Linked DNA regions of Homo sapiens. The protein of the gene in region 1 interacts with the protein of each later gene in a biochemical or structural test. Each region holds a gene or a part of one and is shown on either strand. Other genes may lie near its edges.

What was found.
Region 2: the proteins of FRMPD3 (region 1) and CNTNAP2 interact in a test that uses a peptide from one of them, tested with the Homo sapiens proteins (one large-scale study listed by IntAct).
Region 3: the proteins of FRMPD3 (region 1) and RAPGEF2 interact in a test that uses a peptide from one of them, tested with the Homo sapiens proteins (one large-scale study listed by IntAct).
Region 4: the proteins of FRMPD3 (region 1) and WWTR1 interact in a test that uses a peptide from one of them, tested with the Homo sapiens proteins (one large-scale study listed by IntAct).
Region 5: the proteins of FRMPD3 (region 1) and TNRC6A interact in a test that uses a peptide from one of them, tested with the Homo sapiens proteins (one large-scale study listed by IntAct).
Region 6: the proteins of FRMPD3 (region 1) and CLDN19 interact in a test that uses a peptide from one of them, tested with the Homo sapiens proteins (one large-scale study listed by IntAct).
Region 7: the proteins of FRMPD3 (region 1) and SHROOM4 interact in a test that uses a peptide from one of them, tested with the Homo sapiens proteins (one large-scale study listed by IntAct).

The regions. Positions count from the first base shown.
Region 1 is NC_000023.11:107,602,170-107,605,751, reverse strand, and holds the end of FRMPD3 (FERM and PDZ domain-containing protein 3), read right to left. Parts: coding exon 2,379-3,582; 3' UTR 501-2,378; downstream 1-500.
Region 2 is NC_000007.14:146,122,611-146,127,181, reverse strand, and holds part of CNTNAP2 (contactin-associated protein-like 2 precursor), read right to left. Parts: intron 1-4,571. UniProt on the Homo sapiens protein: Required for gap junction formation. Required, with CNTNAP1, for radial and longitudinal organization of myelinated axons.
Region 3 is NC_000004.12:159,108,999-159,113,569, forward strand, and holds part of RAPGEF2 (rap guanine nucleotide exchange factor 2), read left to right. Parts: intron 1-4,571. UniProt on the Homo sapiens protein: Functions as a guanine nucleotide exchange factor (GEF), which activates Rap and Ras family of small GTPases by exchanging bound GDP for free GTP in a cAMP-dependent manner.
Region 4 is NC_000003.12:149,525,517-149,530,087, reverse strand, and holds part of WWTR1 (WW domain-containing transcription regulator protein 1), read left to right. Parts: intron 1-2,118; coding exon 2,119-2,252; intron 2,253-3,962; coding exon 3,963-4,075; intron 4,076-4,571. UniProt on the Homo sapiens protein: Transcriptional coactivator which acts as a downstream regulatory target in the Hippo signaling pathway that plays a pivotal role in organ size control and tumor suppression by restricting proliferation and promoting apoptosis.
Region 5 is NC_000016.10:24,735,520-24,740,090, forward strand, and holds part of TNRC6A (trinucleotide repeat-containing gene 6A protein), read left to right. Parts: intron 1-4,571.
Region 6 is NC_000001.11:42,736,698-42,741,961, forward strand, and holds the start of CLDN19 (claudin-19), read right to left. Parts: upstream 3,540-5,264; 5' UTR 3,367-3,539; coding exon 3,144-3,366; intron 1,889-3,143; coding exon 1,724-1,888; intron 1,617-1,723; coding exon 1,532-1,616; intron 1-1,531. UniProt on the Homo sapiens protein: Forms paracellular channels: coassembles with CLDN16 into tight junction strands with cation-selective channels through the strands, conveying epithelial permeability in a process known as paracellular tight junction permeability.
Region 7 is NC_000023.11:50,589,961-50,594,531, reverse strand, and holds part of SHROOM4 (protein Shroom4), read left to right. Parts: 3' UTR 1-4,571. UniProt on the Homo sapiens protein: Probable regulator of cytoskeletal architecture that plays an important role in development. May regulate cellular and cytoskeletal architecture by modulating the spatial distribution of myosin II.

The DNA.
Region 1 (3,582 bases):
GGCCAGAGGCTGTTGCAAGGGATTCCATAGCCTAAACTGCGAGGCAGTCAGGCTGCACTCTGAGAGCAAGAAGGCACAGTTCAGAGGGAGAGGCCCCATTTCCCAACCCCAGTCTGAGGAGTGGCCTAAAATCCTAATTCCCAGGCCATCTGATACACTAGGCACAGAGCACACTGTGTTTCTCCACACAACCCCCCACACCACCTCCAGCCCTTCAGCTCTGAGGTCACAGCCATGGGGGCCAGGTGAGCCAGAAGCCTCGTGGTCAAGAGAAAGAGGTAGACAATTTCCAACTCCCATGAGAAACAGTAGGCTTCAAAGAGGAGCAAAGGGGATCCCCTGTGTGTTGGGGAGGTGGGAGGAACAGGGTCCTTAGCTCTCATCACCCACCAGTGCCCAGTACATAAGAGCAGGGGCCCAGGATGAGCACACAAAGGGCCACCACCAACCAACAATTCAAGGACACAAGGACACCCACAAAGAGGCACCGCAAAGACTTATTGGGATAGTAAGATGAATAGATTTAATCATTCTTGTTTGAAAAACAAGACATAAATTAGTATATATATAATTTATATATTTTATGTAGTATATATACTATATACAGACATTAGAAAATGTTTCCTCTCCATGAGGCTGAGGGAGAGGTGAAGGATGGCGGTGGAATGACACAGGCAGGGGCTGAGTGGCGAAGTTGGGAGAAAAAGAAGACCATATCAGCACTCCAGCTTGCAGTGGCTGAGGGGAAAAGGATTCCCCACTGGCTGCATCTCTGGCCCATTCAACAACTTGGTCCTGGGGGAGGAGAAGCAAGGAAGTGAGGGGCTGGATTCTGCAGAAGAAACTCCCCTCCTCCTTGCCGGGAGAACTCACCACTCAGGGAGACTTTATTGCACTAGGGGCTACCAAGGATGGGCAGGGATTAAGCACAGTGTACATCTTTATAAAACTCACATCAGAATGAAAGATTTCACATGGGCCTCTGACACAGTGATGAAACAGAGGCAGACACAGGGCACAAGGGTGTGGGAAATGGGGAGATATGGAGAGGCGGACGAGAAGCAATCTATACAGAAGAAACATTGGCTTTCTTTGTTCCCTACAGTGGGACAGTTGGTAGGGACTCCGTGTCTTCACTCCCAGGAAGGTTGCGGGGGTGGGGGGCGTGGGGGGAGGGTTGGCAGCGGTGGTGGCGGTGGTGGTGGCAGCGGTGGTGGCAATAGGAGGTGTGTGTCAAGGTGGATGTTAAACAGTGTGAATTCCCTTCCAGATGGCTCCAGAGAGGGAGAAAGGTGCAGGACTGCACCGGGTAAGGCGCTCAGCTTCTTTTCTTAGAGAGACAAATCCACAGGGTCAATACACAGCCAAAAGCATATACTCAGGATTAACATATCACGCTAGCTTCCAGAAGTTTAAGATATAGTCATCAACACCCCCCACCCCTACCCCTTTCCCCCCTCCCCCCACCCCCCTCCCCGATCCACAGCTAAGTCAAACTCCCAAGGACAGTCTGTCTGGTAGAGAGATGTTGAGAGAGAAGCCTCATGCCTGCAGCAACAGCCCCTGAGCTGGGCTGGGCCGGGCTAGGCGGGCTCCTAGGCCTGCACTGGGTCTCCCCAGGCAGACGTTTTCATCAGGTACCTTACCCAAAATGAGTGGGGTGATCCCAGATGCTTGCTCCCTAGTGGACTGAGCTGCCCTGCCCATCAGTGAGGGGCAGGGCACTTTGGGGATGGCTGGTGTGGAGCTACTGGACCTGGAGGTGAGGGCTCACCAGGCTGCCGGCCAGTTGGGCCGCTGCAAACAGCCTAGTGTGGCTGTTTTCTGCAGACATCTCACCCAGGCACAGGCCCTCAGGGTGGCATCTACCAGGTGAGTGTGAGCCCAAGGTGGATGGGGACATCTGGACTGAGCGCCCTCTCCCCTCGGCACGGCAATGTGGCCTGCTGCTACTGCCACTGCTCCCAGCAGGGGAGCCGATGCCACGAGGAGCTCAAAGCCTGAGGGTCCGCTTGCTTCAGGCCCTGGCTCCCCCAGCGCCCAACACGGATTGAGCAGGAAGTGAGCCTGATGTCACCTCTCAGCCCCAGAGAAGAGATAAAATACAGCTCTGCTGTGAGCAGAGTGAAGAGGGGCCTTTGCCCTCACAGTGAGGCCCAGAGGCCAGGGAAGGGGTGAGGACACCCAGGGCGGCAGCTAAGCCTGCAGCCCTTAAGAGAGAGCCTCAATCAAGAGAGTTTCCACTCCCCGGAGACTGATGGGCTCTTGGACCCTGACTGGCCCAGCAGACACACACACACTCACCACAAGATGCAAGGACCACAAAGCTCAAACCTGGGGCCATGGTTGGGGAAGGGGGACAGGTGTGGGCAGATGCCCTACTTAATAAGGGTTTTTAAGGAGTGGGTGAATGTGCTCATAACAGTCGCCGAAGTTGGGGAGCCTGGTGGATGCTCTGTGGCTGCCCCTGCAGCTGCTGCCACCTGCTGCTGCTGCTGCTGCTGTTGTTGTTGCTGCTGCTGTTGTTGTTGCTGCTGCTGCTGTTGTTGTTGCTGCTGCTGCTGGTTAAGGTTACGGGCTGTGGACTCCTCAGCTGCACGCAGCAGGAAGGTGTAGTTCCTCACCACCTCTTCTACCTTGGCCAGCAGCTCTTGGCGCTGGGCCTCGGAGCGCACAATGAACACCAGCCGCACGAAGGTCTCAATGAGGCTGCTCAGCACCTGGAAGCTGCCCGTGATGGCTGCCAGCATGTGAGTTGGGCTCTTGTCCACATTGGCCACACGGCGGCAGGAGGCCCGGAGCTCCTTGAACTTGAGAGCTAGCTCAAGCTTATACTCGGAGATCTGAGACACATAGGGCTTGGGGGCACGGGCCTCGGGGCTGGCCACACACTGCCGCAGGACTGTCAGCAGCTCGTTGGTGTCCAGCCGGGCAGCCAGGAAGCCATCAGGGAGGCCATAGGCATGGGCCCGCAGGGCATTGATCTTGGCCAGGCTCCCCTCGAAGGTGGACACACGGAGGTCAATCTCCTGAGTGCGGGAGGCCTCAGGGCTGCTGCTGCTGCAGGTAGCAGCATCCAGCACCTGCAGGGTCCTGCTCACCACAGGCACCACCTGCTCGTCCAGCTTCATGCCAGGCAGGATCTTCATGGGGATAGAGTAGGAGAGCTCATCCTTGCCATCACTGGCATCATCTGCCATGTCACACTTGCGGTAGTAGAAGCAGTAGCGGATGGAGCAGCACTTGCTGCTCTCACTGTCCTCGTCTAGCTCGGCAGGCTTCCGGTACACCTCCTCGGGCAGTGAGAACACGGCCATCTGTCTGGGGCCTTTGGTCTCTGGGGCAACCTGGACGTAGGAGGGGTCTCCCAGCGTCGGTGACTCCAGAGACCTGCTTTTGGGACCCAAGGCTATGGGGAGGCTTGCCTCTACCTCCTTGGCCTCCCTGGGCAGCATGCCCAGGGGAGGATGTGGGTAGACATCCGAGGTCAGCGAGGCCCTGTCACCCTGGTCCAGCTCACTGATACTGTAGCGGCGCATCAGTTTCCTGTAATTGGGAGCTCCCAGACACTCGCCCCCCGAG
Region 2 (4,571 bases), on another chromosome or scaffold:
ACAAGGTATAAGAGAAATATGATTCGAAACAGCATGTTGTGTTAGAGAAACTGCAAAGATCTCAGTATGGTCGGTTAGATTATAGGGTGCAAATGTTGGGTTAGGAGGAGACTAAATTTAAGAGACAGGGAAGAACTAGAGAAATGCAGTACTATAACAAGATTTGTGTTTTGGGAAAGTATTTCTGGCATAGATATAGATGATAAGCTAGAGGGGGAAGATTAGAATCCGGGAGACATACCAGGAGGCTACTAAATTAATGCCTGGAGGGAAATGCTGAAAATCTTAACTATAGAAGCTGTGATAGGAATGGAGAGCAGCGGATGGATACAAGAAATATTTAAGCATTAGGACTGGCAAATATTTTAAAGACAAATATTTTCCCACTGCCATGAAAGCAAAGGAAAAAGTTATTTTCTCAACAGCACTCTCAAGAAAAGCTTCATGGATTAGCTATTGTATGAAATGAATACTCAAAACTGTGCTTATAGATTAAACAATTACCATCTTTTAACTTTAGTAATAGCAATCATATTTACAGTTTTCGATACAGACTTCAACATTTCCTGAGAACTGATTTAAAGACAGCTTTTATGTATACCTGACAAAGCATTTTAAGAAATATTTTACATAGCTTTAAATAAATGTTTTCACTACATGACTATTACATGTATTTCAATAGTACTCAAATGATAGAACTACACTGCAAAAGTACCTTATTGTGAAGAAGAACAAAAATGACATATATATTATGATTTAATGTGCTACCATTGAAAGAGCTGCATTCCTCTCTTTATTTCAAATATATTTCTTTATTTTTTACCAATGTAATTTTTAAGTCTCCAGAACATATGACAGTGTCATCAAGGAATAAGTAAACAAAAAGATAGAAACATTATGCCAATAGGCTTTTTCCTTTATATACAAGCAATCAAGCCTTAAAATGTTGCCTAGATGTAAGCTGAAACTTCTTAGTTAGAGAACTTGAACACAGAGACAGCACTTCACTCTCAGCCAGCTATGCCACAGTGAAGAGCACTGGACCTGGAAATAGGCCAAGCTGGTGGCCCAGGGAAGTTACTTCTCCATGTGTCTCTGATTTTTTCATTTGCAAACTGAAGCATTGTTATAAGAAATAAATGACCTAGTACACATAAAGAGTAGTGCCTGATTTGAAAGGCTGGGAAGAAACATTTAATAAGAAGTCAACACAACAAATATTAGCTATTTACGTAATACAAGCAGAACGTTTTATAAGTATAATATGTACTGCTGCCTGGAGTTCTAGAAAAGGACACTCATTGATTGATGCTGAAAATGTAAATTGTTACAGAATTTGTGGAACTCAATCAGGCAACATTTATTAGCCAAAAACTAAACATCTTCTTTGATCAAGCATCCCTGTCTTTGGAATCAATTCCACAAAAATAACCCCCTCAGTATCTAGAATATTGGAATAAGGTTGTTTTTGTTTATGTTCTTAATGGTAGAAGCAATGTTAATACCCCACCACGGCACATTTTTATCTCTGACACGGTACTATTTTTGTCAACTGACACAATAAAATAGTTATTCTTTTTTTTTTTTTTTTTTTTTTTTTGGAGACGGAGTCTCGCTCTGCTCTGTCACCCAGGCTGGAGTGCAGTGGCGCGATCTCGGCTCACTGCAAGCTCCGCCTCCTGGGTTCACGCCATTCTCCTGCCTTAGCCTTCCAAGTAGCTGGGACTACAGGCGCCCGCCACAACGCCCGGCTAATTTTTTGTATTTTTAGTAGAGATGGGGTTTCACCGTGTTAGCCAGGATGTTCTCGATCTCCTGACCTCGTGATCCGCCTGTCTCAGCCTCCCAAAGTGCTGGGATTACAGGCGTGAGCCACCGCACCTGGCCAAAATAGTTATTCTTAATTCTGTACTGTGGACATACAAAAACACAATTAACTATGCTACTATTTCCTTTTAACTAGTCATAACTTAATAACTTAAATGCTTACGTTAAGATATATAAATAAAACTTACATATACTACAGAAGTGCATGAGGCATGATTAAATTTCATTTTTGGAAATTTCATTACTGCCATTGAAAATCTCTTCTACTATAAGTTAAGCATTCGTTTTAACATATTCTTTAGGGATGAGGACATTAACCAAGTGACTTAAATCATAAGTATACTTTATTAGCTGAAAAACTGCTGGTGGTGGCAATATATATAACTTGAGTAAAAAAGTAAAGTTTTATATTGAATACCAAATCTCATGGGATTATACGTGGCTGTCTGGCATATTGTGTGGAGAAAGATTCTATGGCCACATTCAAATCCACTGAGTAAAATACCATGAGAATTAGTAACATTAGTATTGATGGCAGCATCGAACTCATTGTGTTATTGTTGCTATGAATACATAGAAAAAAACACCCGAATCATGTTTTCTTCAGTTGGTTGGCATTAAAAACACTAAGCTAGTATAATAGTTTCATAATCTGAAAACCTGATAGTCATATTTTATAGTCCAGACATATTTTTATTTGAACCAAAAAATGTTTCAAATATGCTACGTAACAATTTACATTTTAAGTTAGAATTTATTAGCAATTAAGTAATTTAATGCATCATAGGCCATTATTTAACACGTACTTAATAAATTTTTAAAAATAAGACCCATAAAATATGCTATAATTTCACTATGTGACATAATTAGGCTGAAATTTTTTCATGTAGTTCTGTTTATAAATTTTTGACCAATGTCTGAAAAAGACATATATATATAGACAGTCTGTACTTATGTTACTTAATAATTTGGTTCCCATTAAGAGGTGACTGCTTAGAAAAAATCAGTTAACAGTGATAAAATTTAATCCACATGTGTTTTCTGTTAGTTCAAAATAACTACTTCAGTCTATGATATAGAAGTGACAATAAGCACTTTTTTTTTTAAATTTTACTTTAAGTTCTGGGATACATGTGCAGAACGTGAAGGTTTGTTACACAGGTATACATGTGCCATGGTGGTTTGCTGCACCCATCAACCCGTTATCTACATTAGGTATTTCTCCTAATGCTATCCCTCCCCTAGCCCTCCACCCCTCAACAGGCCCGGGTGTGTGATGTTCCCCTCCCTGTGCTGAGGTGTTCTCATTATTCAACTCCCACTTATGAGTGAGAACATGCAACGTTTGGTTTTGTGTTCCTGTGTTAGTTTGCTGACAACGATGGTTTCCAGCTTCATCCGTGTCCATGCAAAGAAATGAACTCGTCCTTTTTTATGGCTGCATAGTATTCCATGGTGTGTACTTGTCACATTTTCTTTGTCCAGTCTATTACTGATGGGCATTTGGGTTGGTTTCAAGCCTTTTCTATTAAAAATAGAAGCACCTTTAATTTTAAGACAATTTTCTTAGAGTTATTATTTTATTTGGCATATCATGGTATTTCACCACTTAACAGACTGTTTTTTTAACAATACAAACTGTGCCTATTATTTTTTTCATGTATTCCTTTCAAATAATACTATAATTGAACAGCATAGATGACATTATAACAGTAAATAAAAATTGTGAGTCCAGGCAAGATTTTCCTTTTCACATACTATTTCAATATGACATCTAATGCATAGAGGTGAACAAATCCTTCCTGAATTTAACTAAACTTTATGTAACTTGATTCCATCTTAGATGTTCCAGACAACACAGGTTTAGTAATTTTGACAGTGCGTATGCCAGTCACACCTCTATTGCCTGCCATTTTCTATGATTCACATTTCCAGATCACCATCCCAGTGCAGATGAAGAAGGTTGTGAATGTACTAGAAAAGGTAAGGAAAAACTTATATATGTTTGGGGAATTTTTCCTGGTAAAAGTATTCTCAGAATCTAATTTCACCTCTTTCCTAAACATAAAAACATTAAAGCATATATCACTATTTATGTTTATGAGGGTATTTCAAGCAAACCTAAATCACAAGGTAAATACAGAATACGGCCCCCAGGAGCTCCTCTGTATTTTTTCAACATTTTTACAGTATACCCAAAATATGTGATCTTCAGCAAGCAAATTCAGAGCCAACAACCACATCTTTATATCTAGATTTCCTACTATCAGGGGAGGCTTTAAAATCTGCAGTGTCATAAAAAATCAGTTACTTCAAGCTGTTATTATGAATAGCTACCTCCAAAGTGAACTAAAGAAGAGTTTAAGAAGATATTTTTCAAAACTTACAATTGAAGAAAGAATCAATTTTGTTTTCTAAGTGCAAATGCTTTGTTGGAAAGAATAATTGGCTTAAAACATTTAACCTTCAGGATTTTACAGAAGGATCATGATGTAACAGCCAACTAAAGGCATATATAATTTACTAAATAGTTACATGGACAGGATGAAATTGGATGTGTACTGGCTAAAGTTTGTAAATAGGCTGTATTTTAAATGGCAATGTTATTTACCACAGATAAAGAAACGGTATTCTAAGCATCTCTGTAAAATAATACCACGGATAGCACTGGGTAGGAATATGAATGAATGAATGAATGAATGGGAGAGTTTGGAAGTCCTAACCAGAGTAACACCAAATCTTCA
Region 3 (4,571 bases), on another chromosome or scaffold:
GTGAACCACTGCACCTGGTCCATTGGTGATAATTTGAAATTCAAGTTGCATAAAATTATAATGGGATGCGCCTCAGATATAAATGGACTATCCGAAATAATGATATGATAACCTTCTAGAAATAAAAACTCTGATTTTGCTTGATTCATATGAAAACTTAATGAGAAAAAAAGTATTCCTTCTTTGTAAATTTTATATGGAAGTAACTTTGGCCAGGAGTGGTGACACATACCTGTAATCCCAGCACTTTGGGAGGCTGAGGTGGGAGGATCTCTTGAAGCCCAGGTGTTCAAGACCAGCCTGGGCATCATAGCAAGGCCCCGTTTCTATTTAAAAGAAAGGTAAATTTGATTTAGACTTAGGAGATATGGAAACCACTGAAAATCGTTGGTCCTTGATAATCCGTATTTTATGGGGTATTCCTTCTCTTCACTCCATTTTTGGTAACAATTTCCTCGTCGGTAAAATGGATAATAGCTGTCTGAGGTTTTGTGGATTAAGTGAAAGTACATTATTTAGTGTAATGCCTAATGTTAGTCCTCTTTATAGCATATTTTATACAATTTCTATTATTTAACAGGCCTTGGGAATTCAAAGATGAAATGTGTGTCCCTCAAGTAACTCACTAATCTATTGTTATAAGTAGATTGTAATTCATGAGTGCTGTAACAGCTATCCTATGACAGCACTGAAGAGGATGTGGACTTCCTAGATGAATATGTATTGAGTTGTAGGGGAGTAAGAATTCACCTACCAGTGAACTAGTGGACCTGAAGTGGTATTCCAGATTGACCTACTGTCATATGAGTAGCACACCTGGTAAGACAACATGTGCAGCTCTTTGTTCAGTGTGCTGGGAACCAGGGGACTGAGGAGGGGGTAAGGAATGATTACTGGCATTTAGAAGCTCATGGTTTGTGAGGGTAGTGAGGAGACCAAGAGTTCTGTTAAAGACTGATGTTCATTTTCCTGGCTTGAGATGGCTGGGAAGCTGAATTACACAGTGGTGATGGATTAGAAATATTGCAGGAGTAGAATCTGCTGGACAGGCTGGCTGAATGTGTGCACGTTTTATATCTCATTATAGTAAAACTGTGTTTGAATCATACCAGTGCAGCCTAATTATGGCACAGGATGATCATGGATATTTCATAGTTCATAGGAAAAAATCCAAGTTGTTGAATATAGTTTTCTTGATTTTTAAGGTTTCTCACACTATTTTTTTCCCTTAAACATTAATGTCTTCTACTACATGTACATTCTGGGAATCTAGTTTGAAATATCTGGTTAATCATATAGTTAAACTAGGCCAGGTGCTGTGGCTCATGCCTCTAATCCTAGCACTTTAGGAGGCTGAGGCGGGTGGATCACTTGAGGTCAGGAGTTCAACACCAGCCTGGCCAACATAGTGAAACCCTATCTCTACTAAAAATACAAAAAATTAGCCAGGTGCCTGTATTCCCAGCTACTCGGGGAGACTGAGACAGGAGAATCACTTGAACCCTGGAGGCAGAGGTTGCAGTGAGCCGAGATTGTGCCATTGCACTCCAGCCTGGGTAACAAGAGCGAAACCCCATCTCAAAAAAACAAAACCCAAAACACCATCATGTAGTTGTACTAAATATATTTCTTAATCTGTAATGATAATGTGATTTCCAAGCATTTCATCATTTGGAAGAGTTGGAGAACTTCTGAATTTAAGCAGGCAAAAATGAACTTATTTATATAAAAACTCAAAATTGACTTGTGACGACACAATGTAATGATGGCATTGAGTCTTTGAGAACAGTTTTTTACTCCTTTATACCATTTTTTGTTTAGATAAATTAATTGATGTTGGTAAATTAGGAGAAGCAATCTGTAGTACATATAATTGATCTTGTAACTTTATCAGAGCTAGAATATATATTTATGTATTTATATAGTTAAAACTATGTTCAAGTGATTATGTCAGTCATTGTAGGAAGAAAAATAAGTTTATTGCCGCATTATTTTGACTTCTAGAATTTTTATCTTTTCAGGAAAAAAAAAAACCACCCTTGTTTTCACATGCAAAATCGCCACTACCTACTGAATTTTAAGAAGCGTGTGTTTCTTGCTGTATTCAGCTGTTTCCTTTTTCCCTCCAGTCTGTGAAAGAATTTACCCTTGGTGCGGTGGTGGTGGGTTTATTGGTTTTTGTGGAGGAAACAACTTGGTCCTTGGATTTTAAGTTGTCCTGGCTCCACCTCTTCTGTGCTTTCATATCCATTATGTATAAGAAGTGTTTTGGGAGAGTTAGTGTCAGTGACTTGAAGAGGAACTTTGTTTTGTCATTGGAACTAAACTTGTCTTCCGCTGGCTGTTGTTTCTCATTGCTTGCCTTCCACAGGTTGAAAATAATGGACTGTGGAGCTTTAGAATTAAAATAAGTGAATAAAAATGTACATTTCGCTGCCATTTGCAGTTTAGTTGACAAACCGACACAGTGTAATATCTGCCCCTTGGCACCTTTCTGTTCTTCTCTAGCTCATGGTATTTGTTTTCACCCAACATAAAAACGGAGAAGAAAGGTAGAGAACACTGAACGAGAATTAATCATTAGGTCATTCTGGGGAGGTCTGATAGTAACTTTCTTAGAAGCCAACAATCAGTGGATCTGAGAGGTTTATGGTACTATGGTGATTATCTGATTTCTCCTGAAAATTCATTCTAGAGTTAAGACTCATTATCTTTTAAAATGTATTTTATTTTTTAATGACCAGTCTTCAGTGGAATCATTATCTTTCTTAAACTTTTTAGCTTAAGATAAATGTAGATTCACATACAATTGTAGGAAATAATGGGGAGAGATCCTGTGTGTACCCTTTAACCGGTTTCTCCCATTAGTAATAGCTTATAAAACTGTAGTGTAATATCACAATCAGGATATTGACATCAGTGCAATCAAGAAACAAAGCAATTCCAGCACCACAAATGGTTCTTGTTGGACTTTTATAGCCACAGTCACTCCCCCACCCCACCTCTGGGGATCACTAATCTGTTCCATTTCTATAACTTTGTCATTTCAAAAATGTTATTAATTGGAATCGTACAGTATATGGCCTTTGGAGATTGACTCCCCTCCCCCTGCGCAGCATCATTAAGGCTTATTACCTTTTGGTTAAAATGAATTTCTGTTGTTAGTGAATAGTTTGGCCTTGTGCTTCTAAAATACCAATAATGTCTGAGGATTGGGGGGTTGGTGGTAAAAGGTGAGATGGGTTTAATAGTGACAATGAAGAGAAAGTTCTGTGATAATGCGTATAAATATAGAGCAAAGAGCATAAGGTCTTGGATGAGCAAGAGTTGTGATAGCATACCACATTTGGGAGATTTTGATATATGTATTTCCTTTTCATATTTTTTTTTTGTCATAATGGAAGTAGTAAGGTTAGCCTTAGCCTTCATATTCTCCAACTGAAATTTAAAAAATAAAATCAGAAGGAAGTCTAATGACTGTATATACAAAAGGGAGTCCCAATGGCCAAATTTGGGACAGTTTGAGAAGCAAATCATGACAGTAACGGACTATAACCCCTAGGGAAGAAAGTATCCATGAGCCCATACTGATATAAGTAAGTAGTTGAATAAATAAATAAAAGCAGGAGAAGAGACACCTCTTTGTTATAGAATTCTAATTAGAAAATGAAGGAATGATGGAAATAGAAAATCACCAGCAGGTAAACACCATAGTAGCAATTGTTACAGGCAGGAATCATCAATGGATGCCAAAATTAGTGGGTGAAGGTATGATGAAAAATATCATCATAGATCAGTATCATCAGGATATTTGCATAGTCTCAAAATATCTCCCCCACAAAATTAATTAACTATAAAGGAAAAAATCAATACTTAATAGTGAAGAAAACTGGTAATATCAAATTAACCAGATCATCAAAGTTAATATCATTAGTAATAAGACATGTCAACATCATGTGTCTGCTGATATAATGTATTGAGAAAGAGATATCTCTGGTATTCTTAACTAAAAATCAACCTAAGTGGAGCAAATATCAGATAGACTCAAATTTAAGGACATTTTACAAAATAACTGGCCAGTATTCCCTGAAAGTATTGAGGGTGTGGAAGATGAAGAAATGCCCAAGAACTGCCACACATTGGAAGAAACTAAGGACATGTGATAACCAAATGTAATGTAGGATTCTGGAATTGATCCTGGACAAGAACAACAACAAAAAAACATTATTAGGATGACTGATGAAATTTGAATATTTAGATAACTTTACCACAATTATTGTAGATGCTAAATTACGGGAAGCTGGGTAAACAGGGGATCTTTGACCCGTTTTTTAAATAACCTTTTTTACTCTAAAATTATTTAAAAATTCAAAGTTAAAAAAAGGAAGCATAGCTTTTGAAGTTTTTTTTGTGAACCTGAAAAGGGGATACCAAATTATTACTTTTTAAGACATCTTTTAGGCTGGGCATGGTGGCTCACTCCTGTAATCCCTGCACTTTGGAAGACTGAGGCGGGTGGATCACCTGAAGTCGGGAATTCGAGTTGAGCCTGGCCAACATGGCGAAACCCC
Region 4 (4,571 bases), on another chromosome or scaffold:
GTGTGAGCCACCGCCCGGCCTCAACTTGTATTCTTAAGACATATGTTGATAAAGTTTTTTCAATACAAAGGAATGCAGCCATCTCATCAACTTTTAAATTAAAAGTGTATTTGTTTAGAGGTAAACTCCCACATTTATTCAGAATGGTTGAAAAATGGAATATTCTAGTAAAGTTCATGTTTTTGGATAATGAGGGTTATGAGTCAAAAGATTCTTGCATTTATGGTTAATAAAGTATTAGAAATTTACCATTGATGAGATACATTTTTTCAAACTGTGGCTCAGGGTGTATGAGTGTGCTTGAGGGATGGGGACTGGTGGGACTCAGGCTTTTTATGCCAGATTCAATCCCTGTTGTTCCTTCTGAGGCTTTCAGGAAAACTTTGGTTGGATAATAAGGTTTCTAATGCACCCTGCCTGCCATGTTAAAAACAACTATCAGAAAATAATTTGATTTTTCTAGGTTTATTCAGAAGGCACTTCCAAGATTTAGATGATGAAAATCACTTTTTACCAAAAAAATCTCCAGTTTTTGGTTTGCTTTTTGTAGATTCCTGAATAAAATTTGTTAGTTAAGTATTTGATTATTTGCAATCTAGATGAACAGAAGTGAGCCAAAGACCCTTTCCAGCTAGATTTATTTCAGTATAAGTTAACAATACAGTTTTTTTTTAAATCAATCAGGTCTCTCATGGTTTGTAACAGTGCAACCAACTCTAGTAACTGAAAATTTTTATAGCCGATGACTTCACTAGGACTTGTCTAGACAGCAGCTACCCTCTAAAGTCACATCATGTTAGGGCTGGAAGAGATCTAACGAAGATACTGTAATTTAGAAGTCCTAAATGTTCTGTTTGCCATTGTAGCCATGGTTTTAGGGTTTGAGGGACAGTGAGACCAATGACTTCAGCATGGAAAGTGGGAAACTGATAGGCATAAATATGGGGAAAGGCCTAACCTTGGTTTGGGATGCAAATGTAAACATACAAAAGTATTCTCTGGAAACATCAGCAAATTTGAAAGGAATTTGATGTCTGGTTATGTTTGTCAAGATGGAGAGACTCCTGGAGATTATACCTAGAGAAAGTAGTTGCAGTCAGTAAATTTGTAGCCTTTTGGATAGACTCTTCTTAGCAATGTAATGCTAGCTTTTATAAAATAATGCTTGTATTATTTGTTTCTGCTAATGAAATCCATATGCTGTGAAACAGTTACTTGTCTGTGGGATTTGGATTGGATCTACATGGTTCCCCAACCTTCAGCATTTTAGTCAACAAAGTAGTCAAATAGATTGACTTTTTTGTTTTTTTGTTTTTTTTGAGACAGCGTCTCACTCTGTCACCCAGGCTGGAGTACAGTGTCGTGATCTCTGCTCACTTTAGTCTCAACCTCCCAGGCACAGGGCTCCTCCTGCCTCAGCCTCCCAAGTAGCACCACACCCAACTAATTTTTGTATTTTTTGTAGAGACAGGGTTTCACCATGTTGCAGGCTGGTCTCGAACTTGTGGGCTCCAGTGATCCGCCCACCTCGACCTCCCAAAGTGCTGGGATTATGGACGTGAGCCACCACCCCTGGCCACTGATTGACTTTTTAAAGTAAACTTTCAACTCATTGTTTTGCTTTCCTGTCTGTAAACATAAAACTGCCAGATGCAATTTAATGTAGAGCCTGGACTCTGTAATTCCACAGTTTTACTGGCCTGTAAGTGGCAAAGACCAGAATGTACTTTATAGTCCAGAGGAGTCTGATTGCTTTGATTGATGTAGATTTGGTTTGAGAACCTGAGATAGAAAAAGCCTTGTCTCTGACAAAGTGTTTTGAGAGGGCTTTCTATGATTTGGGTGTTTAAATAATTGCATGGGTGGGATGATTGCAACATTAAGTGCCCTTAGATCAAATAATAGCTGAGCTTCCCATTAACTTTGTGAATGTGAAGTGACTTATGTCTGTAAGACTTTCTTCGGAGAAAGAATACTAATGGTTGCCTGGTGATTTTGACTTGCTGGGAGTAAATACACAGTGCTTTGTATTTGGTGAAAAGTTTTGATGTGAAGTACACTTTGCTCCATGCCTTGTGACAATGAGTGCATGACTCTTGCTTCCCATTCTGACTGTAGGAAGCTGCCCTCTGTCGACAGCTCCCCATGGAAGCTGAGACTCTTGCCCCAGTTCAGGCTGCTGTCAACCCACCCACGATGACCCCAGACATGAGATCCATCACTAATAATAGCTCAGATCCTTTCCTCAATGGGTAAGTTAATATTTGGGGGCCACTTATTTTTATTCTCTTTATTATGTGATCTAGACTATAATAGGATCTTTGTTTACATTGGGAAGAGGTGGGGAGCTTGAGGGTTGAGGGTGAGAATAAAGGGAGGAAGTGGGAGGAGCTGGCAGAAAAAAGAAAAGCAGGGGAAATCATCTGCCTGTTAAAAAATTTCCAAATTAAAAAATTGGTGATAGGACGTAGAGTAAACCCCTAGTCAAGAATTTGAAAATGGGCATGAACTTATATTTTTAAACATGATGGTGTCGTCTAGTACTTATACTTGGAAGAATCTTCTGGTTTTATGTAACCAACAGGGGATAAAAGCATGCCATATGGCAAATTGAGAACAGAACAATTAAGAGATTATGTTCGGCCAGGCATGGTGGCTCATGCCTATAATCCCAGCACTTTGGGAGGCCGAGGTGGGCAGATCACCTGAGGTTGGGAGTTCGAGACCAGCCTGACCAACATGGAGAAACCCTGTCTCTTCTAAAAATACAAAATTAGCAGGGCATGGTGGTGCATGCCTGTAATCCCAGCTACTCGGGAGGCTGAGAATTGCTTGAACCTGGGAGGCGGAGGTTGCAGTGAGCCGAGATTGCACCATTGCACTCCAGCCTTGGCAACAAGAGTGAAACTCCATCTCAAAAAAAAAAAAAAGAAAGAAAAGAAAAGAGATGATGTTCAGGGTGAAATGTGAATAAGATCTATAGTTTAGTAAATAATATTCTACAGTGTCAGATTTCTGATTTTGGTAATTGCACTATGGTTATGTAAGATGTTATCACTGGGGAAGCTGGTGAAGGGTACATGGGAACGCTCTGTACTCTTGTTGCGTCTTCTATGTGAGTTTAAAATAATTTCACAATTTAAAAAGTAATTAAAACAAAGGAGCAAAAGGGAAAGAGAATTTAGCCAGAAATATCTTCATGAGCAGAAGTAGTTTTTAAATCAAATAAAAAGGGCAATTCTGTATTTCCTGTGCCTTTTATTCTGCCCTTGCAGAGACGTCTGGCAAACAAACAATACAATTATGAACATTATTAAAGATAGAGATAAAAACAAATAGTAGCTGAAATAATAATTAATGGAGGTTTTAAATTGTTGATTTTAAAGTATTTGAAACACAGAGAAGTACAAAGAATAACATGAATTACCCATGTACCCACTACCCAGATTTGCCATAGTTTTATTTAATCTTACTTTTTAACAAATAAAATATTACAATTAATATTTGAAGCCATCCCCCCACCACTGAAATCTCGTTTCTTTTCCCTTCTGTCCCCAGTGGTAGCCACTATTCAGAAACTGGCGTGTGTCCATCACACAGACTTTTATACCCCTTACTGCCCGTTAGTGTATGTATCCATAAGCAATATTCAACATAGTTTTTGTTTTTTTTTTTTAAAGTTTTACATAAATGGTGTCATACTCTGTATGTTGAAGAATGTTCAAATGGTTATTTTGAGGTGAAAAGGAAATCAATGTCAATTTACTGTGAATGGCCACACATGATTATTTTCATTTTCATGAGGGTATGTATTTCAAAATTAAAACTTTCCTTCCTCCCTAACCTGGAAAGTTGGGCAGCATGGCACAACTGCACTAGTTTAGAGCTTTTGTGACTGTGTTTTAATTTTGAGATTTATTTAGTGGGCTCATATTGAAGTTTCTTCATCTTTTGCTTTGCAGAGGGCCATATCATTCGAGGGAGCAGAGCACTGACAGTGGCCTGGGGTTAGGGTGCTACAGTGTCCCCACAACTCCGGAGGACTTCCTCAGCAATGTGGATGAGATGGATACAGGTAGGAGCAAAGCCTGCAAGCACTTACAATGGGTTTGTGTTTTTTAAATGATCTCTTCGGTTATCTCAATTTTATTTTTCTTTTATTTTATTTTTATAATTTCAACTTTTATTTTATATTTGGGGGTACATGTGCAGGTTTGCTACATGGTTATGTGATGCCGGGGTTTGGGATACGATTGCTCTCGTCACCCAGGTAGTGAGCATAGTACCCAATAGTTTGTTTTTCACCCCTTGTTCCTCCCCACTCCCAGTAGTCCCGAGTGTCTGTAAAAATGTTGAAAAAAAAAAAAATGGAATGCTTCATGAATTTACATGTCATTCTCATGCAGGGGCCATGCTAATCATTCCAGTTTTAGTATAGGTGCTGCCAGAGCGAGTACGGTCATCTCAATTTTAAAATCCAACCAGAAACACTCAATCTCAACGACAACATAAAATAACAGCTGAAAAGCCACTGAACCCCCAGGCACTATTAATAAACTGTAGCCCCTTCC
Region 5 (4,571 bases), on another chromosome or scaffold:
CAACCCAATATGCTTTTTTTCCAGCTTAATTTGGCAATTAGGTGGTAAATCACTTGATAGGATAAATTAATCACAATCTGTAAACTTAATTTAAAAATGTGTAACAACCCTCTGTGGAAAATTTGAATATAAACATCAAAAGAATACCATTCTGTAAGCTCTTTTGATTTTTGGCATCTGAAATGTCTGAAAGTATAAATTGCAAAACATATTTACAATTTTAATGACAACTGCAAAAGTATTGCCCATGATTGGAAAGACTAAAATGGTATGCGTTATATGTATTCTGTTCAGGCTGATGCATGATAAATCTCTCACTGAAAAAACAGAAATCCCTATCTCATTTTAAAATTTTAAAAAATTGGCCGGGCACAGTGGCTCATGCCTGTAATCCCAGCACTTTGGGAGGCCGAGGTGGGCAGATCACTGGAGGTCAGGAGTTCAACACCAGCCTGACCAACATGGTGAAACCCCATCTTTACTAAAAATACCAAAATTAGCCTGGTGTGGTGGCACATGCCTGTAATCCCAGCTACTTGTGAGGGTGAGGGAGGAGAATCGCTTGAACCTGGGAGGCGAGGGTTGCAGTGAGCCGAAATTGCGCCATTGCACTCCAGCCTAGCCTGGGCACAAAAGCAAAACTCTGTCTCAAATAAATAATCAATCATTCTAACCTTAAGCAAAATTGGAAAAATGTTGCAACTAATACCTGTATCTCTTTACCTAGTTTTAGTGATTATTAATATTTTGCCACATTTGTTCTATCGTGACATTGCACACCAAAGTATGGCAGTAGGTATCTCACAGAATAAGGGCATTCTACCTGACAGCAATCAAATGATCACCCACAGGAAGTTTAACTTTACAATTCTGTCTGGTCCCTATTCAGATTTTCCCAATTTTCTCAAAATTTTTTTTAAAGTTGTATTTGTTCTTTCACTCAATTGCTGTATCCTGGGTTGCATTTAGTTGTGTCTGAAGTTTCTCTTACATTAGGAGCATTTTCCTGCCCTTTTCTGCTTCTCTCTTGACAATGACATTTTGAAATAGTCCAGTCTAGTTGTTTTTGCAGACTGAAATTTGCATTTTTTGGGTCTTGTCTGTATGATTAGGTTCAGGTTGACCCTTTTTGGCAGGAGTATCCCATAGGTGATGATGTGTTTGTCTTCAGTATTCCCTCCCCACAGCATTTTGAAGTAAATTAACCGAAAGGTTATCCAATATTCTTACTTCTACACTGACTTGGTGTTTCTTTCATTTTAGGAAATGCCAAACAATTGGTTTAAACCGAGATGTAATTTTAAATATTTGAGGTTACAGTAATTACAGGTCTTTGTATTTAAATCGATCAGCCATAATGATTACTGCTTTTATGAAGATTTATGCCAAAGGTAGCTCCCTTACTGTGGGACATAAAAGTTGCTTGTTTTCAGCTTTGACCAGTGATGAACTGATAACCCTGGTAGGAAAATGAAACATTGGGGCTGGGCTTGTAATACGCTTTCTTAAAAGAATGCCCCATTGAAATTAGAGTGGCACGGTGCCACCAGACCAAGGGTTCTCATCCCGATGCCACAGAGGGACCACAGGTGTTATGAAGTGGTTTGCAAAATTGAATGTATGCCAAAATAAAATAATAAAAATAAAAATAAAACCCCACAACAAAAGCAGATATGGTCTTTAGTGCTCATTAGATCTCAAAGGGTCATTACTCCTCAAAGATTAAGAAACTGCTTCTTTATGAGGAGGTTGTCAGAGGAGCTGAATAGTATCAATAAGAGGAAGATGTTTGAGATTCAAAAGGAAGTAATATTCGACTAAGGCATAGCTTCTTTCCATCTTAAAAAAAAGCCACCCATGAAAATAAATATAGTTTAAATTTCCTATTTAAGATGTCTTATTTTAAAAATGATTTGCATACTCTGTGTGTTTGAGTTGGCTATGAAGGAGAAATCCTAGCATTTCCACTCTTGTAACTAGGGAAAAGCATTTTGAATTTTTAGCAGTAGTATATTATGTGATGATGACTCAGCTGACTTCCCGTTTCAAATGGAATGTTCAAAACAGATTGAAACCTGGTTGAAGAATTTTATACTTTGAACCTTACAAGATATTTTCTGCAAACAGTGACTGATTGGATTTTGTATAATAACAAACAAGATTAAGCCAACTCAGTTGTTTTGCTGTTCTTATTAGTGGTTTTCAGTCAGGGAGCACTTATTGAGCAGTTTGCTGCAATAATATTGAATATTTTTAGAGTTATGACGTCTGTGTTTTGTTGACTTTGGTCCCTTCTTTCTCCCATTCTTTTGAAGTTTCCCTAAAACATGTGTGCACAGACGGGAGAGAATGGTAGTTAAGTGTGTGCTGATTTTAAATGTCCTTTTAAATATCATTTATTCCTTGATAATTGACTGTATAACTGATGTAAGAGAAATATGTTTTATATGTTATTCCACTTGTGAATCTCTTTGCAATGTGAGGCATATAGTGAAAATCTTACAAAGATAGGGTCATAAAATGTGCATTCTCTACACTGCTGCAGGTTAATCGTCCTCGAGCCACGTTTCTGAGGCCTGTCAGTCACTATTTCTTAGAAACCTTTGTTGGCTCCTTCCCAGTGACTCTGGAATTAAAGCCCAGACTCTTGTTTTTTGCTCAGCTTATCAATTTAGCACTGTCCCTTCCACCTTTTGCCCTGTCCCTAACTCTTCCTTCTCTGAATGTACCTTTCAGTTTCTCTCAACTTTTAAATAACAGCTTTATTCAGATAAAATTCCCATATGATAAAATTCACCCTTTTAAAGTCCACAAAGTGTATGATTTAATGGTTTTTAGTATATTCACAGAGTTGTGCAATCAGCACCACTGTCTAATTCTAGAATTTTCACCCCTTCACCCAAAAACCCCATAATAGCAGCCACTCCCCATTTGTCCCTTCCACCCAGCCTCTGGCAACCACTAATCTACTTTCTATTATAACTCTATGGACTTACCTATTTTCGTTTAAGTGGAATCATACTATATGATACTTTTGTACGTGACTTGTCTTATTTAGTGTAGTGTTTTCAAGGTTCGTCCATCATGTCGCATATATCCTTTATTCCTTTTTATGGGCAAATAAATTTCATTGTATGGCTATTGCCCATTTTGTTTGTCCGTTCATCAGTTAATGGGCATTTGGGCTGTTCTAACTTTGGGGCTATTATGAATAATATTGCTATGAACATTCATGTACAAATGTTTGTGTGGACATATATTTTCAATTCTATTGGTTATATACCTAGGGGTGGAATTGCTGGGTTATATGGTAACTTTGTTTAACTTTTGTTTGTGTTGTTTTGTTTTGTTTTTGAGACGGACTCCCTCTGTTGCCCAGGCTGACGTTCAGTGGTGCAATCTCAGCTCACTGCAACCTCCCACCTTCCAGGCTCAAGCCATCCTCTCACCACTGCCTCCCAGGTAGCTGGGACTGCAGGTGCATGCCACCACGCCTGGCTAATTTTTTCTATATTTTGTAGAGATGGGGTTTCACTGTGTTGCTCAGGCTCTGTTTAACTTTTTGAGGAACTGCCCGACTGTTTGCAAAGCAGCTGCACAGTTCTACATTCTCATCAGCAATGTATGGAGGCACTAGGTTCTCCACATCCTTTCCATTGCCAGCATTTGTTAGGGTTCTTGTTTCTGATTTTAGCCATCCTAATAGATGTAAAGTGGTATCTCATTATGGTTTTGATTTACATTTTCCTAATGGCTAATGATGATTAGCATCTTTTCATGTCCTTATTGGCCATTCGTATATCTGATCTGAGAAGTGGCCATTCAGATTCTTCTCCCATCTTTAAATTAGGTGATATTTTTTGTCATTGAAAAAGGTCTTTATATAGCTTAGATACAAGTCCCTTATTAGATATATGATTTACAGGTATTTTTTCCTATTTTGTGGCTTTTCCTTTCACTTTTTTTTTTTTTTTTTTGAGACAGAGTCTTGCTCTGTCGCCCAGGCTGGAGTGCAGTGGCATGATCTCAGCTCACTGCAAACTCCACCTGCCAGGTTCAAGCGTTTCTCCTCCCTCAGCCTCCTGAGTAGCTGGGATTACAGGCACCCACTACTATGCCCAACTAATTTTTGTATTTTTAATAGAGACAGAATTTCACCATGTTGGCCAGGCCAGCCTTGAACTCCTGACCTCAAATGATCCACCCGCCTCTGCCTCCCAAAGTGCTAGGATTACAGGCATGAGCCACCGCATGCAGCCTCTTTTCACTTTCTTGATGAAGTCCCTTGAGCACAAAAATTTAAAATTTTGTAAATCTAGTTTACCAGTATTTTTTTCTGTTACTTGTGTTGTTGGCAACAAATCCAAGGTCACAAAGATTTACTTGTATTCTAATAATTTTATAGTTTTAGTTCTTAATGTTTAGTTCTGTAATTCATTTTGAGTTAAGTTTTGCATATGGCATGAGGGCTCCAATGTCATTCTTGTTATGTAACTATCCAGTAATTCCAGCTTCATTTGTTGAAAAGACTTTCATCTTGGCACCCTGTTGAAGGTCACTTGATCATAAAA
Region 6 (5,264 bases), on another chromosome or scaffold:
CCGACTCCACTACCATGCTTTCTCCAGGAGGCCTCAGCCCCTTGCTTGTCCGGCTCCCTGGGAAGCCCCTTGAGGGCAGACAGAGCCATCAGTGTCCCCAGGACCCAGCACAGGGCCTGGCAGCCCAAGTGGCATTGGGGACTGTTGAAGGGATCGGGGGCCGAGTCCTATCCTGACATGCCTGAGCTGGACCTTGCTTGGCAGACTTTGTGGCTGCAGCCACCACCCAGGGAACAAACCTTGTACCTGAGATCTCCTCCCTCCCCTTGCCTCTCAACACCTCTGCCTCCTCCAGGCATCCCTCCCGATTGCAAAAGCCCAGACATCTTTTCTCATCCTCTCTCCACCCCAAGGCCCAAAGCCCATTGGGATGTCTAGGGTTAAGACTGTCCCATTCTCTGCTCCTGGCTAGGCTGAGAAGTGAGGGAGGAGCCAAGGTGGGCCCAGGCCCTTTGCAGAGCATCCCCTTCAGTTCCCATGCCCACAGTCTTACAAGTCCTGGTTATCTCCTGAATATCAGCCTGCTTTCCACTGCTCCCTCCCTGTTGCCCCAAACTCTCTGCTCAGACCTTTGGGACAGCCGCCTTCCTGGTGTCACTCCCTCCCCACCATTCTGCACATCACAGCCAGAAGGACTGCCGCTGCCTCCACCCAAATGAGGAACAAAATCTTCCTGTGGTTGCAAGGCCCTCCACGATCTGCCCTTATTCTCAAGTTTCTTCCTGGCCCAGAATAACTGCTGCCTCCTGCAGGAAGTCATCTCAGCCCTGCTGCCACCAGCAGAAATGAAAACAGCTCAGGCTTGCTGGGTACTGTCCAGGGCCCGGGCACGGTGCCACACCCTCACCTGCATCCTGCTGGATCCTGACAACCATGTGTGAACTGGTGCTCAGGTTCTAGCTCCATTTCACAGAGGAGGAAACTAGGCACAGAAAGATTAAGTAACTTGCCCAGGTGACACAGTGCATGCAAAGCTGGGATTGATTGATCGTTTGATTTTTTTGAGACAAAATCTCACTCTGTCACCCAGACTGGAGTGCAGTGGCGCAATCTCGGCTCATTGCAACTTTTGCCTCCCGGGTTCAAGCTATTCTCCTGCCTCTGCCTCCCGAGTAGCTGAGATTACAGGCGCCCGCCACCATGCCCAGATATTTTTTGTATTTTTAATAGAGACGGGGTTTCACCATGTTGGCCAGGCTGGTCTTGAACTCCTGACCTCAGGTGATCCACCCATCTTGGCTTCCCAAAGTGCTGGGATTACAGGCGTGAGCCACTGCACCCAGCCAGAGCTGGGATTGAAACCCAGAGCCAGGGCACTTAGGTCCTTAGAGAGTCCTTGCTGCACCTGGGTGCCCATCACAGGCCTCCCGCCCCTATGGAGGGCCCCACCACACTCCTCCTGGCGCCCCCCTTTAAAGCTTCTTGGACAGCAGCTGGATCCTGTCCCCACTTCCCCCGCCAGGTGATCCAGTGGACAAAGGTCAGTGGCCCCAGAGGAGGTAAAGCAAAAGACCCAAGCCCTGGCACCCACCTGGCATTGACAGGTGTGCTTGGGTTGAAGAACTCCTGGGTCACCAGGGTGGCATACCACGAGACAGCAGTCAAAGTGCAGAGGCCTAAAGACAAAGCAGAGGGGCGCTCAGCTCTGCTCTGGCCCCCCGAGGCCACTGGGGCTGGGGCTGCCTGCCATGGTTGTGATTGTGCAGGAGTGAGGGGCACTCACCTGCCAGGATGAAGAGGGCTCCCCCGGCGATGGCAACACGGCCCTTGGCAATGGGGTTGCTGTCTCCCACCCGCGTACACTTCATGCCAACTACGCTGAGGACCATGGCCACGAAGCCCAGGAGCACGGCCACCACCATCAGGGCCCGCGCTGATTGGATGTGACCTAGGGTGGGCGGGATGACACTGAGTCGGGCTGGCGGGGATGGGGGTTGGGTCGGTGCCTGGGGTCGGTGGAAGGAGCCCAGCTTGAGAGGGGCTTGAGCAGGAGCTGGCCTGGGGGGTCAGACCACCTTCTGGCAGGTGCAGGATAGTGAGGAGTGACAGCCCGGGCATGAGGACAGGGTGTGGGGGTGAGAGTCCCCTTCACTGTCAACGCCATTCTCCACTCGCCCTTGCAGGCTTTTCCGGTAGTATGATTCACTCTGCTGTTGCTTTCTGGCCTGGGGACTCCCTCTTGGGCTTGGCCCATCCTCCCAAGCAGCTGAGGGCAGCTCCAGGGTCCCCTCAGGTTTGGTAGGTGGAAGAGCTGGGGGTATCTGAGGCCCAGCTCAACTCAGCCTGAGCCCCGCAGCAACCCCTCCCCAGCAGCCATTCAGACAACAGTCACTTTCCCCTCTGCCCATGGCAGCTGGAAGCTTGCCTCTTCACGGGTGCATGGGTCCATCCTGGGCCCTGGGGGGTGCTCAGGAGACCTGGGTCCCTCAGCGAGGCTAGATGACCTGCCTGAACTGACCTGCCTGAACTGGCACAATGGGGCTGGTTGAAGGCCGCTCTGCTCCCAGCTCCCATGGGGAGCAGATTGTCCCTGGGGGCTCCTGGGCAGATTGCAGGTGGATCACCTCCACCCCAGAGTTAGAACTTCGGCGGTGCCTGTCAGGCTCATCTCCACACCCCAGAAGGAGAGGGACTGCATGCAGACACACCTGTCTGTGCATGCATGTGCACGTGTGTGCGTGTGCATGCGTGTTTGCATGCATGTGCATGCACCCATATGCTGGCACACAGGCCTGGGAGCAGGACTAGGGAGCAGGTGTGCATCATACAGTGTGTGTCTGTCTACTGACTGTGGGGAGAAGTGGATGAAGGGTCTTAACTGAGTCTTTCAGAGTGCCACAGGTATTAGTATTCCCCTTTAGAGATGAGAACATCACAATGGGAAGAGGTTTGGTGACTAGTTCAAAGTTATAGTGACAGAGCAGGAATCTGGACCCACAGCCGCCAGACCCTAGAGCCCTCCCCTCCCACAGGGCAGCAGGCTGGCCTGGACCGTCAATGGGCACAGGGCAGTAGTGGGGGAATTGTAGAGCGGAGGCTGGAGGTTGGAGCCCAGCGCAGATAGCAGACTGTGAGGAAAACTTGCTCCAGACTCCCCTGCTGTTCCCACCTCCCATCTCCCACCCCGCCGGCCTGGGGCCTACCGTCCAGGGCGAGCAGCGAGTCGTAGAGCTTGCACTGCACTTGCCCAGTGCTCTGGGAGGCGCAGGACATCCAGAGCCCTTCATAGAGGCCCACGGCAGTGATGATGGCGTCGCCTGCGTAGGAAGACTGCTTCCACTGTGGCAGGGCTGTGCTAGCAATGATGCCCACCCAGCCACCCAGGGCCAAGAAGTAGCCCAGGAGCTGGAGGCCTGAGTTGGCCATGGCCCAGGAGAGAGGACCGAGGGTCCCAGGACTCAGAGCTGGGCCAGGGTGCCAGCAGGGGCTTTGGTCATGGCCAGGTGGGAGGAGCAGCTGGGCAGGGGGAGCAGCGAGAAGGAGGGTCAGAGGCAGAGAAGGAGAGGTGGTGCGGCGGCAGCGGCTGGAGCAAAGGCAGTGGCTCTGGACTCCAGAATGCAGGGGGAGGCCCAGGGGCTGGAAAAGGCCAGGGCCCGCCCACAGCAGCCGCCTAAGCCAGAGCAGGGTCCCCAGCAAAGCTCATGCCCAGCCCCCTGGGGGCGGAGGGCCGGCCCATGGCCCAGGTGGTGTCCCTGCCCCGCCCCGTTCCGCAGGGATAGGGAAGGGAGGGGCTGAGAGGAATGACCCAGCTGCCCTCTGGGCCTTTCCCCACAGGGAAACCCCTTTAGGAACCTGATTCGGGTGTCCTAAAATTCGGATAATCCCTAACCCAAACACCAGCCCTGGGAGGATGGACTTTGCTCTTGCAAGGCTGATCTAACCCTTGGGGTTTTCTGCCCTTTGACTTTAGGACAGAAGGGAAAGGAATGCCAGTTTGCAGCGGGTAAAACTAGAGTTAGATGTCAAGGATAACTTTTTGGCAGGGGCTCTGAAGCTGGATGTGGGGAGGCTGAGCTAGCGGTGGGGTGTTGGGAAGAGGGGTCATGGGTACCTGGGAGCTGTGTGTGCCAAAAATCAGGGAGGCCAGACCAGGAAATATGTACTGTGGGGTCTTTTTGAGATCTGAGGGGGACAGAAAAGGGGCCCTATCGAGGCTGGGCCAGCGCTGGCTGCCGGCCAGCAAGGGGCCTGGTGGGGAGCTGGGGAGACAGCCCCAACCTTCTGGCATCAGCCTGAAGGAAGGCGGATTGCTCAGCCCCTTAATCCCCTTGCTGGCTGGCTTAGTAGCTCCTGCTGGGACTGGAACACTGGGCCCTGGCCCCCAACTCTAGAGCAGCCTGGCGCGGAGCAGTGGCCTCTGCACATTCCCGGGGTTCAGGCTGCCCGCTCCGAGCACCCCCACCTCCCTCTTCTCTCTCCCAGTCTCTCTTGGTCTTCAGGAGTAGGGGAATGTTTAACTCTCTTCCACCTCATTAGCAATCCCCTCACGTTCAAGTGGGCCCCACTGCAGCGTGGGTGCAGAAGGAATGTCACAACCCTGCTTCCACTCCTGCCAGCCCCCCGCCGCCCCCTCCGTCCCCAACAGCCCACCCACCCTTCCTGGACTGCACTGGGGGAAGGCAGGGTCCTGCTGCAGACCCCTGCTGGCTTCCTCCCCCACAGCCCCAACCCCCCTCTGAAGGGACAAGTCCCCAGCCCGCTCTTGCATTCTTCACGTGGCTATGCAAACGAGAGGGTGCCAGGCGCTGAGCAGACAATGGCAGCCCTGTGTGCCCGCCCAGGGCGTAGGCCTCTGGTATGGCCTGCAGCTCTGGCCAGAGATGGGGGAGTGGTCTGCCATCTGAGGGTCAAGGGTGGGCACTGCTTGACCTGTGGTGGTGCACACTGGGACCCTCAGGCTCTCTGTGCTGGGAGGGTCAGAGCCACGTGGATCCGAGCACACACAGACCTGCTTCCTGGACGACCTGTGGGTCCCAAGACCAAATGGGGTCTAGGACAGTGGCAGAGAAGTAAGTCCTGAGCTCAGATTCTTCTACCACAATGACAAGACAGTAGGATTGAGGGGAGCCTCCTCCATCCTACTGGGGCCGCAATGGGCACCCTGTGACCAGTGCATTAATTTAAGCATGTGGGCCACTGTTGCAGGCAGCAGGCCTCCTAACAGTAAGGAGACCACGGCAGAGGGAGGTAATAGACCCCCAGCCAGGAAACAGCAGGAAGGGCTTTCCGCTTGAAACTGTGTGGTGCTGGCCCCTGTGGTCTCT
Region 7 (4,571 bases), about 57 Mb from region 1:
GCCATAGTCTTGAGTTTTTCTAGTCAGCATGTGATTGGTTGTACCTTAAGTTTATGACACCAAAAATACTATTAACTCTGTTATTTTTGTTCTTAATCCCATCTCAAATTAGTTTCTAGAGTTAGAATCAGAACACAAGGATGCTCATTTTCACATGGAGGGAAAGTTGCCAAAGCATTTAAAAAATAACCCCAAAAGTATATCTAGCAGTGAAGCTTGGTAGATAAAGGTGAACTGCTAAACAGACACTGGCGTGCCACACTCCTGCCAGGGCAGTCTCATTGTGTGTGACGGTGCTGCAACACTGCCAGTATTACTTGAGATGCAGTCTCTCTCCCCTGTTCTCAGTTCCTGGGCTCAGCCCTCCTCCAAGGCCTGCCAGTGAGTAGCAGTTTGGAAGGCAGGCCAAGGGAGATCCCCAAAGACAGTTATCAGTCTTAACTTCTGCTGTCTCCCGTCAAATACTTATACAGGCCCCCATGGGTAATAGGCAAGCATGATGGCTGATAGAGAAGTCAGTGCATGAGTTACTATCACATGTCCCCCCAACCCCTCCTGCCACCTCCCAGGGCTCTGGATAATTGAATCTTCCTGAGTCCCACAGCTGGAGACTCAACCAGGATATAGCTGTAAATGCCCAAGTAGAATCTGACAGAATAAGACAGAGACACTGAAAATAAAGCCCTAGAAAGGAAGAAATTGGAAGCAAAGAAAAGGAGAGGTGAAAAGATAAAAAGCCTCCTTCAAGGTTAGGTTCAGGTTCTGTTTTCCATTTAACCTCATGTGCCATAAAGCTGCCCAGGCACACCAGAGCCACATCCTGAACCCGACCCTCCCTGACAGTGCTGCTCTGCCAGTAGCAAGCCCCAGATGGAGGAAGCTGGGCCCATTTCTGGCCACTTCCACCCATTTGGAGCTTTGCCAGAGGAGTCGTCTATGCCAATAATATTTCTGCAACAGCATATTATATTATTTGAAGATTAGTAGATCTTTTTGGGGGGGTGGGGCAGGGGACAGTTTCTATAGATGAAGAACCAGTGTTGGTTGTACAGCTGTTGGGGGTCATCTATCCCATGTGAAGCTATTCTTTTTCCAAATCTTGTTGTTTCTGCATTTGTGTCCTCCACCACTCCCTTCTTGGCTGACATAGATATGCCTGCCAGATTGTCATCAAGGGTCATATTTCAATAAAAGGTGCTAAGGACAAAAAAAAATCTCATGTGTTTTAACTCAGGTGATGGAAGTCTAAAGATTCTGCTGAAAAGTACTGGAAAGGAATTTGGTCACCTATCCATAGTCCTTCACAGATAAACATATGACCAGACCCTTACCCACATCCCTAAACCCTTACCCTGGCCTCTGAGGGATGGTATTGATGCTATACCATTCATCATCCCCAGTTAAATAGCAGGATCTGCCATAGCCTTTTTAGGGGAACAGCTTTTAGACATCTATTTCAAGACCATCCTGAGTAGGGGGTACAGAGTTTAAGCCATTGGTTATTTCTGTTGTTATCACAGTATTGAAGCATGGTATTTTTCTACTCAGAAGGATCTCAGGATCACAGCCCTGCCCTTTAGCTCACTGATATATTTCTTCCTCTCTGGTTACTCAGTGGCAACATCACATCCAGTCTAACCCCATGTTTAGAATGCAGAAAAAGTCAACAATAGGTGTAATCTCAGGTATAGACCTAAGCAGTATACAGAGTCTAGTTCTGGAGTCTAGCCTGATCGAAGGTAAGCCATTCTTTCTAGACTTCTTCCAATCTTGAATTCTGTCTAGTATTTTCATCTTACTTCTAGCTGATAGTCCAATCTCACACCTTCATGCTCAGCTCCCTGGAAAGCAAGGGCCTTGGTGATCTGCTCTCCAAGGCAACCTCAAAGATTAGACTCAAATGTATTCCAGGAAGCAACTCTGACATTGAAAAGCTTTCTTTTTTCGTGATCCATATTCTGTTCACATTCCAACTATCCTCCTTCTACTCAAGATATCCATTGTGGTAGAGTAGAAAGAGTCCAGCTTTGGCATTAGAATGAACTGTGTTCAAATCCTGGTTCTGCCACTTATTCAATGAACCTGGGCTACTAGCTCAACTTCTGAGGTCATTTTCTTATCTGTAAAATGGGAACAGTATTATCTTGCTTGCAGTTATTGTAACTTGAAAATAATAAATAAAAGCCACTAACAATCCAAGAAGTTATTAGGCAGAATCCCAGGCCCACCCCAAACCCAGTGATAGCAGTCTGAATTTTAACTAGATTTCCAGGAGATTCATGAACATATTACAGCATGGGAAGTACTGACTTGTTGAAAACATATTCAGTACATGGTAACCATTATTATAGTCCTGATCTACTCAATTCATTTTTTCCTTATCCCAGGCATATTCTTGCTCTTCTCGTGTTGCTCACAACTACCTGCCTGGATGAATTTAGGAAAGTTGCAGGATACAAGGTTAAAACACAAGATCAAATGAACAATCCGAAAATGTTATTAAGAAAACAGTTCCGGCCGGGCATGGTGGCTCACGCCTGAAATCCCAGCACTTTGGGAGGCCGAGGCAGGTGGATCACGAGGTCAGGAGATCAAGACCATCCTGGCTAACACGGTGAAACCCTATCTCTACTAAAAATACAAAAAATTAGCCAGGTGTGGTGGCACGCACCAGTAGTCCCAGCTACTCGGGAGGCTGAGGCAGGAGAATTGCTTGAACCTGGAAGGCAGAGATTGCAGTGAGCTGAGACCACACCACTGCACTCCATCCTGGGCAACAGAGTGAGACTTTGTCTCAAAAAGAAAGAAAGAAAGAAAGAAAGAAAGAAAGAAAGAAAAGAAAGAAAGAAAGAAAGAAAGAAAACAGTTCCATTTACAATAGCATCAAAAAGAAAAAAGTACTTAGGAATAATTTAACAAAAGAAGTGCGAAACTTTTACACTGAAAACTATAAAACATTGTTGAAAGAGATTAGAGAAGATCAAAATAAATGGAAAGACACTCCATGTTCATGGATTGGAAGACTTAGTATTGTTAAGATGAAATGTGCCCCAAATTGATCTACAGATTCAATCCAGTGCTTATCAGAATTCCAGTGGCTTCCTTGTGTAAGTTTACAAGCTGATTCTAAAATTCATATGGAATTACAAGGGACCTGGAACAGTCAAAACAATCTTTAAAAAGAACAGTTGGAGGGCTCATACATCCCAACTTCAAAACTTACTGCAAAACTACAGTAATCAAGACAGTGTGGTACAGACACAAGGGTAGGTGTATAAATAAATGGAATTAAATTGAGAGTCCAGAAATAAATCCTCATGTATATGGTTAGTTAATTTCAACAAGGGTCCCAAGAGAAATTGAGGAGAGAATAGTTTTTTAACAAATGATGCTGAGACAACTGGGTATCTACATGGGAAAAAATGAAGTTTTCCTTAAATCACATGCAAGAATCAACTCAAAATGGATTATAGAATGTAAGAGTCAAAATTATAAAATTCTTAGAAGAAAACATTGTAATAAGTCTTCCTAATGTTAAGACGATTTGCACAAGTGATACAAGAAATAGAAATAAATTGGAGTAAATCAAAATTAAAAACTTTTGTGCTAAAAATATACCATATAAAAAAGTGAAAAGACAAGCAACATAATATTAGGAGAAAATATTTGCATATCAGATACTTCAAAATATGAAAAGGACTCTTACAACTCAATGATAAAAATAACCAATTAAAAATGGGTTAACAGATTGTAATAGACATTTCTTCAAAGAAAATATGTGTTTTAGTATGCTTGGGTTGCTATAACATACTACCATAGACTGATTGTCTTAAATAACATTTATTTCTCACAGTCCTGGAGACTGGGAAATCTGAGAGCAAGATGCCAGCAGATTCAATGCCTTGTGAGGGCCCACTTTATGGTTTGCAGATGGCTACCTTGTGGCTGTGTCCTCAGCAAAGACAGAAAGGGATCTGGTCTCGGCCAGGCGCGGTGGCTCACGCCTGTAATCCCAGCACTTTGGGAGGCCGTGGCGGGCGGATCAGGAGGTCAGGAGATCGCAACCATCCTGGCTAACACGGTGAAACCCCATCTCTACTAAAAAAAATACAAAAAAATTAGCAGGGCATGGTGGCAGGTGCCTGTAGTCCCAGCTAGTCGGGAGGCTGAGGCAGGAGAATGGCGTGAACCCAGGAGGCGGAGCTTGCAGTGAGCAGAGATTGAGCCACTGCACTCCAGCCTGGGTGACTGAGCGAGATTCTGTCTCAAAAAAAAGAAAGGGATCTGGTCTCTTCCCCTTCTTATAAGGGCATTATAATTTCATTATGAATGCCTACTCTTGTGACTTCATCTAAACCAATTTACCTCTCAAAGGCCCCACCTCCATATGCCATCACATTGGGGATTAGGGCTTCAGCATGTGAGTTTGGAGAGGACACAAACATTCAGCTTATAGCAATATGCAACTGGCTAGCAAGCACAGGGAAAGATGCTCAAGCACTACTATTCATTAGGGAAATGCAAATCAAGACCACAATGAGATACCACTTCATACCCACTAGAATAGCTAT